Homo sapiens: one gene and its partners. The protein of the gene in region 2 purifies or fractionates together with the protein of the main gene of each other region. This does not show direct contact. Each region holds a gene or a part of one and is shown on either strand. Other genes may lie near its edges. The genes, in order: HEATR3, SPTLC2 and PTH2R.

The links.
Region 1: the proteins of SPTLC2 (region 2) and HEATR3 purify together in Homo sapiens (co-immunoprecipitation; one large-scale study listed by IntAct). This does not show direct contact.
Region 3: the proteins of SPTLC2 (region 2) and PTH2R purify together in Homo sapiens (co-immunoprecipitation; one large-scale study listed by IntAct). This does not show direct contact.

What each region holds. Positions count from the first base shown.
Region 1 is NC_000016.10:50,100,470-50,103,969, reverse strand, and holds part of HEATR3 (HEAT repeat-containing protein 3), read right to left. Parts: intron 1,712-3,500; coding exon 1,535-1,711; intron 1-1,534. UniProt on the Homo sapiens protein: Plays a role in ribosome biogenesis and in nuclear import of the 60S ribosomal protein L5/large ribosomal subunit protein uL18 (RPL5). Required for proper erythrocyte maturation.
Region 2 is NC_000014.9:77,519,092-77,522,824, reverse strand, and holds part of SPTLC2 (serine palmitoyltransferase 2), read left to right. Parts: intron 1-1,243; coding exon 1,244-1,379; intron 1,380-3,733. UniProt on the Homo sapiens protein: Component of the serine palmitoyltransferase multisubunit enzyme (SPT) that catalyzes the initial and rate-limiting step in sphingolipid biosynthesis by condensing L-serine and activated acyl-CoA (most commonly palmitoyl-CoA) to form long-chain bases.
Region 3 is NC_000002.12:208,448,092-208,451,824, forward strand, and holds part of PTH2R (parathyroid hormone 2 receptor isoform 1 precursor), read left to right. Parts: intron 1-2,657; coding exon 2,658-2,718; intron 2,719-3,733. UniProt on the Homo sapiens protein: This is a specific receptor for parathyroid hormone. The activity of this receptor is mediated by G proteins which activate adenylyl cyclase. PTH2R may be responsible for PTH effects in a number of physiological systems.

The DNA of each region.
Region 1 (3,500 bases), on a different chromosome or scaffold from region 2:
GTAGCCTCCAACTCCTGCACTCACACGATCCTCCTGCTCAGCTTCCTGAGTAGCTGGGATGACAGGCATGAGCCACCACTTAATGGCTAACTTAAAAAAATTTTTTTGTAGAGACAAGTTCTTGCTATGTTTCCCAGGCTGGTCTTGAAATCCTGGACTCGAGTGATCCTCCCACCTGGGGCTCCCAAAGTGCTGGGATTACAGGTGTGAGCCACTGCGCCTGGCCTGTGGTTTTTTATATCAATTGTATGGAATCTGAGTTTGATCTCACCTCTAGTCTAGAGCAGTGGCTCTCAGGTTTTAGTGTGCAACGGTATCATCTGGAAGGCTTGTTGAAAAATAGACTGGTGGGCCCATCCACAGAGTCTATGACTCAGTAGGTCAGGAGTTGGGGCCGAGGACCTGCATTTTGAATAAGTTATCAGGCAAGGGCTGATGCTGCTGATACAAGGAGGGCACTTTTGAGAAACACTGCTCAAGAGAAGTTCTTGATTGTACATAAATGCATTTTGCAGCTAAATATACACTGAATAGCCTTTAACACAAATTGTGGCTTCATTTAGCAAAAAAAAGAGTTTCACATAAATAACTACAGGCTAGCCTCTGGCTAGGAAGAAATCTCATTAGAGCTTTATACCTTTGATAAAAGAAAAACAAATGTTATTACCACAGCAATACATACTGAGTAGGAAAATCAATCAGAACAAAGACCTTTCAGAAGTCAGGGGTTATTTTCCCAGTTCACTGTTTAACCTTTTTTAAGCACCTGCTTCTGCAGAGTTTGATGACTCTAACTATTAATATATCTGCTTTCCTTGAAGCTGCAGGGAAATAGGGGATATTTTTTTCTTATCTTGCAAGCTCTTTATCCAGAAATTTAAAGGACTGTAACCTTTAAGAACAATATGGCTGGGCACAGTGGCTCACACCTGTAATCCCAGCACTTTGGGAGGCCAAGGTGGGCAGATCACCTGAGGTTGGGAGTTCGAGACCAGCCTGGATGACAAGGCGAATCCCCGTTTCTACTAAAAATACAAAAATTATTTGGGTGATGTGGTGGACACCTGTAATCCCAGCTACTTGGGAGGCTGAGGCACAAGAATCACTTGAACTGGGGAAGGGGAGGTCGCAGTGAGCCAAGATCGCACCACTGCACTCCAGCATGGGCGACAGAGTGAGATTCTGTCTCAAAAAAACAAAAAAAAGTAAAATTAAATAAATGCAAAATGTGTATGAAAGTGCTTTGCAAAATACAGAGTATAATACTGACATATATGAAGCATTGTCAAAATTACTAAACTTAAAAAAAGAAGAACTTGTCAGATACCATTTTAGCTTCAGTTTCAATGATTCAGTAGTCACACTGTTGAGCTATGACTCAGTCAACGAACATTTTACAAAGTACTGGGGATGCTGTGCTACATATGGGGATTCGTCATGCACATGCTTCTGAGTTGCACAGCGGTAACTACACACACCCTTGTCCCCACAGAATGTTCAGACTTATGTATTTATAAGTTAAATGGCTACAAACCTTCATTTTAAAGACCGGCTGGAATTCTTTCAGAGCAGATAATAATTTAATTTGAATCGAGGCTCTTTCGGCTTCTTTACCATCTGCAAAAACATCAAAGAGGGCATCCAAAGCTTCTCCTGCTACCACAAGGGAAGGATCTTTGGTGGTAACTTCAAGCAGAAAGCACCCAATGTTCTGGAAACAACAAAACACATTTAGTATGACTAACACCAGTCTCCAAAACAAGTACCAACTTTGAATGTGGCAATAACTCATGCATACTATTTTATATACAAATGCCAGGGAAAAATTAAAACTTCAAGAGATTAGACTTAAATACTTATAAACATACCAAGTATAAGCAAGATAAATTAAACATATTATAGTTTATATTCATAAATAAAGTGAATTAAAATCCATAAATGATGTATGATTTTGGAAATCACTAAATTTTCCCCTCTACCTCTCTCAAAAAGGATTTCTCCATGATGTCAAGATGCATAGAAATATTATCTGTAACAACAACGACAACAACAAAAAATCTGCTTTTAAAAGCATAAGAAAAACACTTTAGGCCAGTTGCAAGTGGCTCACACCTGTAAGTTCAGAACTTTGTGAGGCTAAGGCGGGAGGGTCGCTCGAGCCCAGGAGTTCAAGACCAGCCTCGGCAATGGAGCAAGACCTCATCTCTAAAAAACGTAAAATAGGACTGATCTGAATCGAATCTAGTCTGTAGATCTAACTGTCAGTTTGTAGGAAATACAAGGATAAAAAAACAAATTTACCACCACAAGGTAGCAATCAGACAAATCCAGAAGGTTTTGGACACTATATTGGACAACTGATCCAGGAGGTGAGAATAACCACGTGGTGCCGGGGAGGAACTGTTCAAGATTAAGAGAGAAAGAGAAGACCCCACAGGAAACATAACATGTGGACTTCAGCAGTGTAAACAAGCTCTCTGTAAACAGATAATTTTGAGGCAACTGTAAAATTATGAATATGGACCAGGAATTAGACACACTAAGAAATAACTGTTGCCGGGTGCAGTGGCTCATGCCTGTAATCCCAGCACTCTGGGATGCTGAAGTAGGTAGATCGCTTGAGCCCAGGAGTTCAAGACCAGCTTGGCCAACATGGCGAAACCCCATCTCTATTAAAAATACAAAAATTAGCCAGGTGTGGTAGTGGGCACCTGTAATCCCAGCTACTCGGGAGGCTGAGGCAGAAGAATTGCTTGAACCCAGAGGCGGAGGTTGCAGTGAGCCGAGATCACACTACTGCACTACTGTACTCCAGCCTGGGTGACTGAGACTCCATCTCAGAAAAAAAAAGAAAAAAAAAAAAGCTTTGCAAGTATCATTTTTCAAAAATAGATTCTTAAAAACATCAGTCATCATTGTAAAGTTCTTAGCAGGTTAAGAGGTACTTTATAATAATGAGTTTATTATCCACTAGTCTCACACTTCAGCAATTATTAGCACACCAAAGTGTAATGTTACTATGACTGTCCTTTTAATTACTAGTGACGCTGTACTCCTAACAGTGCAGTTTGTGAGCAACTGTGCTAAGTGGTAAGAGCAAATATGCTGAGGGAATTGCTAGTATATTGGCACTACCAGGGTTGCTGCTTAAAATTTATGGAGTGGTATTAGAATTAATTAACTGTGTTGTATTTTTCAGAATGCATGTTGCCTGGTGTGCAAGGAAAATGGTGTGGATTGTTCATTCATCAGCAGGAGAATGTAACATGCATACATTGGATGCAACAGCAAAGGCAGAAGGCATCTTTAAAAATTCTGAATTTGCCCTTTCACTAAAGACAGATTTATTTTTTTAAAAAAGTACCTCTGGAATAACGTTAAATTGTAAAATGTGGCTCAACTTTTCAAATACTTACCTAATTAATACACATAGTTAGATCAAGCCAAAGGGTATATTCTAATAATATGACTCAATAAAGCAACTTGATATGACTTCTTCT
Region 2 (3,733 bases):
CTTTTAAAAATATGAACTTGCTGATTTTATAATCTATATATGAAAATTACTGCAGCCTTTTCTATTCATGAGTATTCATGGTTGAGAAGATTCTAAAACAGTTCTTAGCCCTTTCCAAGCAGATCTTTTAAATTTATTGCTTTGCTCTGTATAACAGAACAGTTGTTTGGATATCTTTTCAAAGATTGACTTACCATAATGTCAAAACCTGCCCAAATATTTAGTCAGTTGGCAATTGCAGACAGAAACGTGTGTTTTAATCTATTTGTGTTTTAGGGAAGATGAGCAAAATAGGATTAAAGATACGATTTTATACTATTACAGATATGTTACTGTTGTCTGGTAAGAATTTTAAGGAAACAGGCTAGGCGCGGTGGCTCATGTCTGTAATCCCAGCACTTTGGGAGGCCAAGGTGGGTAGATCACTTGAGGTTAGGTGTTCGAGACCAGCCTGGCCAACATGGCGAAACCCTGTCTCTACTAAAAATACAAAAGTTAGCTGGGCGTGGTGATGTGCACCCGTAACCCCAGCTATCAGGAAGCTGAGACAGGAGAATCGCTTGAACCCGGGAAGCAGAGATTGCAGTGAGCCAAGATCGTGCCGTTGCACTCCAGCCTGGGCGACAGAGTGAGACACCGTCTCAAAAAAAAAAGAAAGAAAAAGAAAAAAAGAATTGTAAGGAAACAACAAAATGAAACTCAGAAGATGAAAATTTGGGGGTCTAAAGGCTTCATCTCTGGTCTTATGTGTAAAATTTATTTGCAGCACAGTTAATTAGAATGAATCTTAAAGTTAGAAGATGTAAATTCTAGTTGCAGCTATGCCACTTGCTACTTGTAATGTGCCACACACTATTGTGCAACTGTAGGCATGTCACTACCTTGGTGAGAGTCTCCCCACCTATAATATGAAGATAATCATAAATATCCTGCCTACTGTCAAGGGATTTGTGGAGTGCTCAGTGAGGGGGTATGGCTGAAATTCTTTGAGGATGCTAACGCTCCATTAAACGTTTTTTACATTATTATAACTTCTGCTGTTAACAGGTAGAATGACAGAATACAAAATGAGACATTTTACATTTATATTCCATATGGTTTACTCTGTAAAATATTTTATGGTGAAATGGAAAAAAACGAAACAGAACTGATTAGATAGAATGGAGATAGAGGAGATTTACTGTCTTTTTTCCATTCCTTTTTACTTAGGATTATTTTGTTTTCTCTCACCGTGACTTTCCAGGTAAAGAGTGTGTACAACAGTTAGCTGAAAACACCAGGTATTTCAGGAGACGCCTGAAAGAGATGGGCTTCATCATCTATGGAAATGAAGACTCTCCAGTAGTGCCTTTGATGCTCTACATGCCTGCCAAAATTGGGTACGTTTTGTTGCAGATCACAGACCAGTCTGTCCTTATCCTTATCTGTGATGTGAGACCAGGGCTTATGTATTTTGTTAGGGAAAATGGTCTTGTCCTTACTGTGTTAACCTTCATTTGGTACATATGCCATAGATCAAATAGTGGATTCCAAATTGTAAAGTATGTTAATTTGTTCTTCTTTCATTAAACATTTGAGTTTCATGTACTCTCTAGGGGCCTGGGATAGATCAGTGAATAAAATACAAACATCTCTGTCCTTGTGGAGCTTACAGTCTAGTAGGGGGCAACAGTCAGACAGACATAATAAACAAATGAACTGTGTACGATGTTAGAAGGTGTCAAGTGCTATGGAAAAAAATAGAGCAGGACCTATATGGGGAGTTGAGAGTGCCCTGTGGGCGGGCCGATAACACTATTAAATAGGGTGGTCAGGGTAAGGAAGCCTCCTTGGGAAGGAAAATGACATCTGAGCAAAGATTTGAAGGAGCTGACAGCCACTGGAGAAAGAAGCATCTGTGCAAAGGCCACAGTACAGAAGCGAGCTTGCTTAGCTGACGGAAGAGTAGCAAAGAGGTCCCTGGAATTGGAGCACCGTGCCCCAGGGCGAGCAGTGGGCCATGAGGTCAGAGAGGTTTTATCAGAGTGTGTTATTGGATACTTACCAGGTGTGCAGATTACACCAGCTTCTTTGGTTTGTATGAGGCATACATAATGGAAAGCCCTGCCCTAGGATAGCTTTCAATGTATTTGAGAAGTCCAGATGTATAATGAAACCAGAAGACATTTGAAAAGCAAATGAACAGTAATTATACTGAACAAATTTTATTATATGCAAAGTGGCCCTGAAGATGTAGAATAAAGGAGTGACCTGCTTAGTATAGGCTCAGTAAGAAAGGCACATCTTGTTGGATGGGTGAGTTTTGAGCTGGATCTTAAAGCATTTCTCCAGTTTGATTGAACTCATTGAAGGAGCAATTTTTGTAAATTTTTGAATCCCCAGTGTCCACCACAGTCTCCGACACTCAGTAAATGTTTACTGAAATGAATATGGGAGAGGAAATTAAATCAGGGAACCTGGAAGTAATGTGATTCAAAGAGAATGAAAGGGAAGTAAGGAAAAGGTGCTCCCTGAGAGAAAAAGAAGAATTTGGGTTTCAACATGAAGTCATATGGGCAGTTGGTATTATGGCTTCAGAGGGGATGGGGAAGGATTTTCTTCATTCTTCTTTAAGTGGAATTCTCATAAACAAACATGAAGAGTTATCAGATCCAAAGGACTCAGTCTAGAGCTCTCTTTAAAGAAGGCTGTGTCTCCTTTATTCTACATAGGTGCAACTGACTGTGTACACTTTAATTAGGAAAGATTTAGAGAAGGTACAGGACCCAAAAGGGCACAAAAAAGCAATAACTACTAAATATAAGGAAAACAACTCTGTATACAGCATGTATAAAGAAAAGCAAGGTATATTTGGGGAGATAAAAGTTGTAAAGGCATTAAGATGTGTGTTTGTTGAGAAAAAATAAATTTGTGCATTTAAGAAGTTAAAAAAAAAAGATTTAGAGAAGGTAAAGAATTAGAATAAGGCACTAGACAGTTTGGGAGCATGTGCTGAAGATACAGGGCACCCAGGTTCATGCTGACACAAAGGAGGTATGTTGAGGAAGATGTACTGGTACTACAGAGAGTGGGAAAAGGCTGTGAAAAGACTGGCATTAATGTAATGCCAAATGTGCAGGATCTGTATAGCCCAGGCTGGAGTGCAATGGCGTGATCTCGGCTTACTGCAACCTCCACCTCCCAGGTTCAAGCAAATCTTGTGCTTCCGCCTCCCCAGTAGCTGGGATTACAGATGTGTGCCACCACACCTGGCTAATTTTTGTATTTTTTAGTGGAGATGGGGTCTAACCATGTTGGCCAGGCTGGTCTCCAACTCCTGACCTCAGGTGATCTGCCCGCCTCGGCCTCCCAAAGTGCTGGGATTACAGGCACGAGCCACTGGCCCGGCCACATTTTTTTATTCTCAAACAAATGCTGTAAACAGCTTAAAGGAAAAGTTGAAACATAAGGGAGGTCAATAAGAGGAAAAGACAAAAAGCAACATAATTTGGGCCAGGCACAGTGGCTCACACCTGTAATCCCACTTTGGGAGGCCGAGGTGGGTGGATCACAAGGTCAGGAGATCGAGACCATCCTGGCCAACATGGTGAAACCCCGTCTCTACTAAAAATACGAAAATCATCTGGGTGTGGTGGTGCACACCTGTAATCCCAGCTGCTCGGGAGGCTGAGGCAGGAGAATTGCTAGAATCTGGGAGGTGGAGGTTATGGTGAGCCAAGATCGTGCCACTGCA
Region 3 (3,733 bases), on a different chromosome or scaffold from region 2:
TATGTTCCCTGAAAATAATCAGGAAACAGTCCCACACTCCCATTTTATTCCCTTTGTAAAATATCTTAATCCAGCAAACATTTTTTGATCATCCACTTGGCAGTAAGTGTTTAAACACAGAGACAGGTGTTAAAGTCTCCCACACAAGATGCATGCACTCTGACCCTTTAGGTTATTTTGTTTGTTTTCTTGTTGTGATCATATGTATCATATTCAACATTTTTAATTTGTAGTTATTTTAAAGTTAATTTAAAGTTTTGTCTTCACAAAACTTATTTATTTTGTATTGACGTGTCTTATGAAAATAACTCCACTTTGGGAGGCTGAGGTGGGCGGATCATGAGGTCAGGAGATCGAGACAATCCTGGCTAACATGGTGAAACCCCGTCTCTACTAGCCGGGCGTGGCAGCGTGCGCCTGCAGTCCCAGCTGCTGGGGAGGCTGAGGCAAGAGTATGGTGTGAACCCGGGAGGCGGAGCTTGCAGTGAGCCGGGATCATGCCACTGCACTCCAGCCTGGGTGACAGAGCAAGAATCCGTCTCAAAAAAAAAAAGAAAATAACTCAACTTTCAGTAAATGCACATACTAGATAACATTTAAATTTATATTAAATTTACTTAATTTAACATTTAAATTTAAAACAACATTTACATGTCAAGTATTTTTGCCTTTATTTCTGTGTTCTAAATTATGTAACAATTCATATTAAGACTCGTGATAAAAAATCCTTAAAGGATCCCAAAGTAGTTTTCTGTTCTTCATTCTTCCATGGTAGTCTCTATGCTAGTCTTATGCATAAGATTCTCTAAGAAGGTGAGAAAAGCAATTCTATGAAGACATAATGCCTGTGTACGATATTTGACATAATTATCATCTAAAACATAATGCCAACTCAACCACCATTAATAAATACTGTATAGAACAGCATTCAGGAAGTACCTGATCAGAAGAATGTAAAGGAAGCAGAAGATGCAGATATAAGAATGATAAGATGTGAAAATTGATGAAAGACAGGCAGACACTTTTTGAAGACAACCAAGATAGAACAGCTGAGGGATCTATGTCAGGCCATGTGGTAGAATCTATGCCAGACTGTATGGTGGATTTATATCTAATCATCCTACCAGAAGCAGCTGTCCCCTCCCCATTACATAGTATCACTTTTATTTATTCTTCATAGCACCAATTCATAACCAAAAGCAACTGAAGTTGCTTTGTTAATTTTGACTGCTTCACCAGAATATAAGTTTTAGAAAACAGGGATATTGTTTATTTGTTCATTATTTATATCATTTAGAACAATCTTTGACACATAAATAGACAATAAATGATTAATGGAGAAATGTGATAGATAGATAGATAAATAGATAGATAGATAGATAGATAGAATATGCAAACTGAACCTAAGAAATAACCAGAATTAGGTAGGTCTATTTTGACAAAAAATTCCTAGAACACAGAATTTGAGCAGATTAAAGAAAGAATACTATAGAAACAAGAAATAAAATTGGAATATAGAATCATAAAATTCAGTAGTGATATAGGCAGGCTGAACTTAAGTTAGATGGTCACTAAGGAGACCAAAGACATTATTGTGCATATCATCATTTTCATCTTTTTCTGAAAATTTTCTTTTTCTAAGCCTATTTCTTTGTTCACTTTGTTGCTAAGAAAGAATATAAAAAAATTACAATTTTTTTAAAGGTTAAGAATTTAAAGTTATGCTTGATAAAAAATGTTCTTGGCTAGACCAAAATTTTGTTTTCCCCTTTTGTAAGGTGCTTCCTAGATTCTAAAATGTTTTCCTTATGGTTTCTGTATATCCTTTATTTAAACCACTTTCATAAAGGCCACATAATGAAAAGTCATCTCTTAAGTCTTTCAGTCCCCTACTGCAGTATTCCATATAAGTTATGGTTCATGATTTTTTTGTGTGTGATGTCAGAGTTTAATCAAATACAACATGAGCTGGACAGTGAACTTTTACTGGGGGGCAAACGAAAGTCGGTATAATGGATTTGATGTTACAAGCCCAGAAGGTGTTTAGCACTTATGAAGGACAAATATCTCGCGCTCAAATCATCAGACAAATATAGTGGTCACCCTTTTCTATTAATGCATGAAAATGCTTCTGTCTTGTGCCAACGTGAACTAAAAGAAGAGACTAAACTGGTTAAAACTTCCTGATTTTTATAACTTGCCTCAGTATGCCTTCCATTTTTAGGATGAAAAAATTCTAAGTTTTTAAAACAACAGCATCCCTCAGCTTTTCAGGAGTCCCTGTGTTGCTTCACTCCTTGAGAGCATATGATGGTCAGCGTGACAAGAGTCAAAGTCAAATGCCAACCATTGCTTACTTCCAACCCTAGGAACTTCACTCTTCTCCAAATATGGCTTTTCCCTACACCCCTCAGATGAAAATTAGGCCAGTTTTTATCTTCAGACTAGAGGAACAAATAACATCAATATTCTTGCTAATTTCTCAAACTGACATGATTAAAAATTAAGTGGACTTTTCTTGTTCACATATCAGAAATTTTCATGTCTATTTTTATCTCTGAACAGCTAATAGTATATTCTTATATATGGTGAATTTGAGGAAAAAACCTCCTTAATCTTAAAATAAATCTAGTCTCTGAATCATTTTCTGATTTCAGGGTTTCCAGCAGCATTTGTTGCAGCATGGGCTGTGGCACGAGCAACTCTGGCTGATGCGAGGTGAGTGAAAAGGCAGGGGAAACGAGAGAACCTCAGATGTTCTCAAGACTCAGGCTTCCTGCTCAGAATTCACACTCGCTTCTGTTCTTGATGCCATTGCTTTTTAGGGATGCCACAAGGAAAATTACCTTGATGCGATGGTAGCTTCCAACACATTACCAGCAAGCTGTCTATTCCAGAGGTCATAGAGCAGAAACACTCGCAGACTAGATGAAGGTGCCTGACCTCCATAGATTAAGAAACAAATGTAAAATATAATGTGAGAAGCAAGTGGAAAGAGATGGGTAAGAGAATCCACTTAGGATTTAGTGAAAGCAGGTTGAAGAACTACACTACCTGATTCCTAGGATAGGCAGTGTTCATACTCTCTCTCTCTCTCTCTGCCACATCAACTTTTCCTGAGGATGGTGTGGTTATGAGGACCTGCGATAAGGTAGCACGAAGGGGAACTACAGACAGAATCTGGTGCCCTGGGCCAGTGACACATACTTCCTCATAGAGATGGAGAGGCAAGTACACTGGCTACATTTGTAGCTTCTGAATTAGCCTGCAGAGAAGTTCTGGGTTTTATTTGTGGCCCTTGGGAAAAGGACATGTGGGAAGGAGTTCCATCAATCCATGAATCCTCAAAATCAAAATATTTTTGAGGCTGATAATGCCCTCAAAAATATTAAGAACTTCCTTTGTATCAGGGATTGTTCATGGCTCTTGTATATTTAGTATATTATGAATGTTTAGAGCTCAGTTGCCTCATGTGTCTTTAGTACCTGGGTTTAACACACGTGTGGTCTACTAACTCATCCTTATCTATATTTAATGCAAACTGTGGGTTTCATGCATCCCATTTGTTACCATATCTTCTATAGCAGAATTAAATATTTTAAAATAATAAACACATATTAGAAGTGGAATTTATCTCTAACTGTGAGTCATTAAGTTCTTCCAGGTAGCATGGAGCTAATTTAATGTGTCATTTTAAAGTACAAGAAAACAATGCTATAAATCATTTAAAATG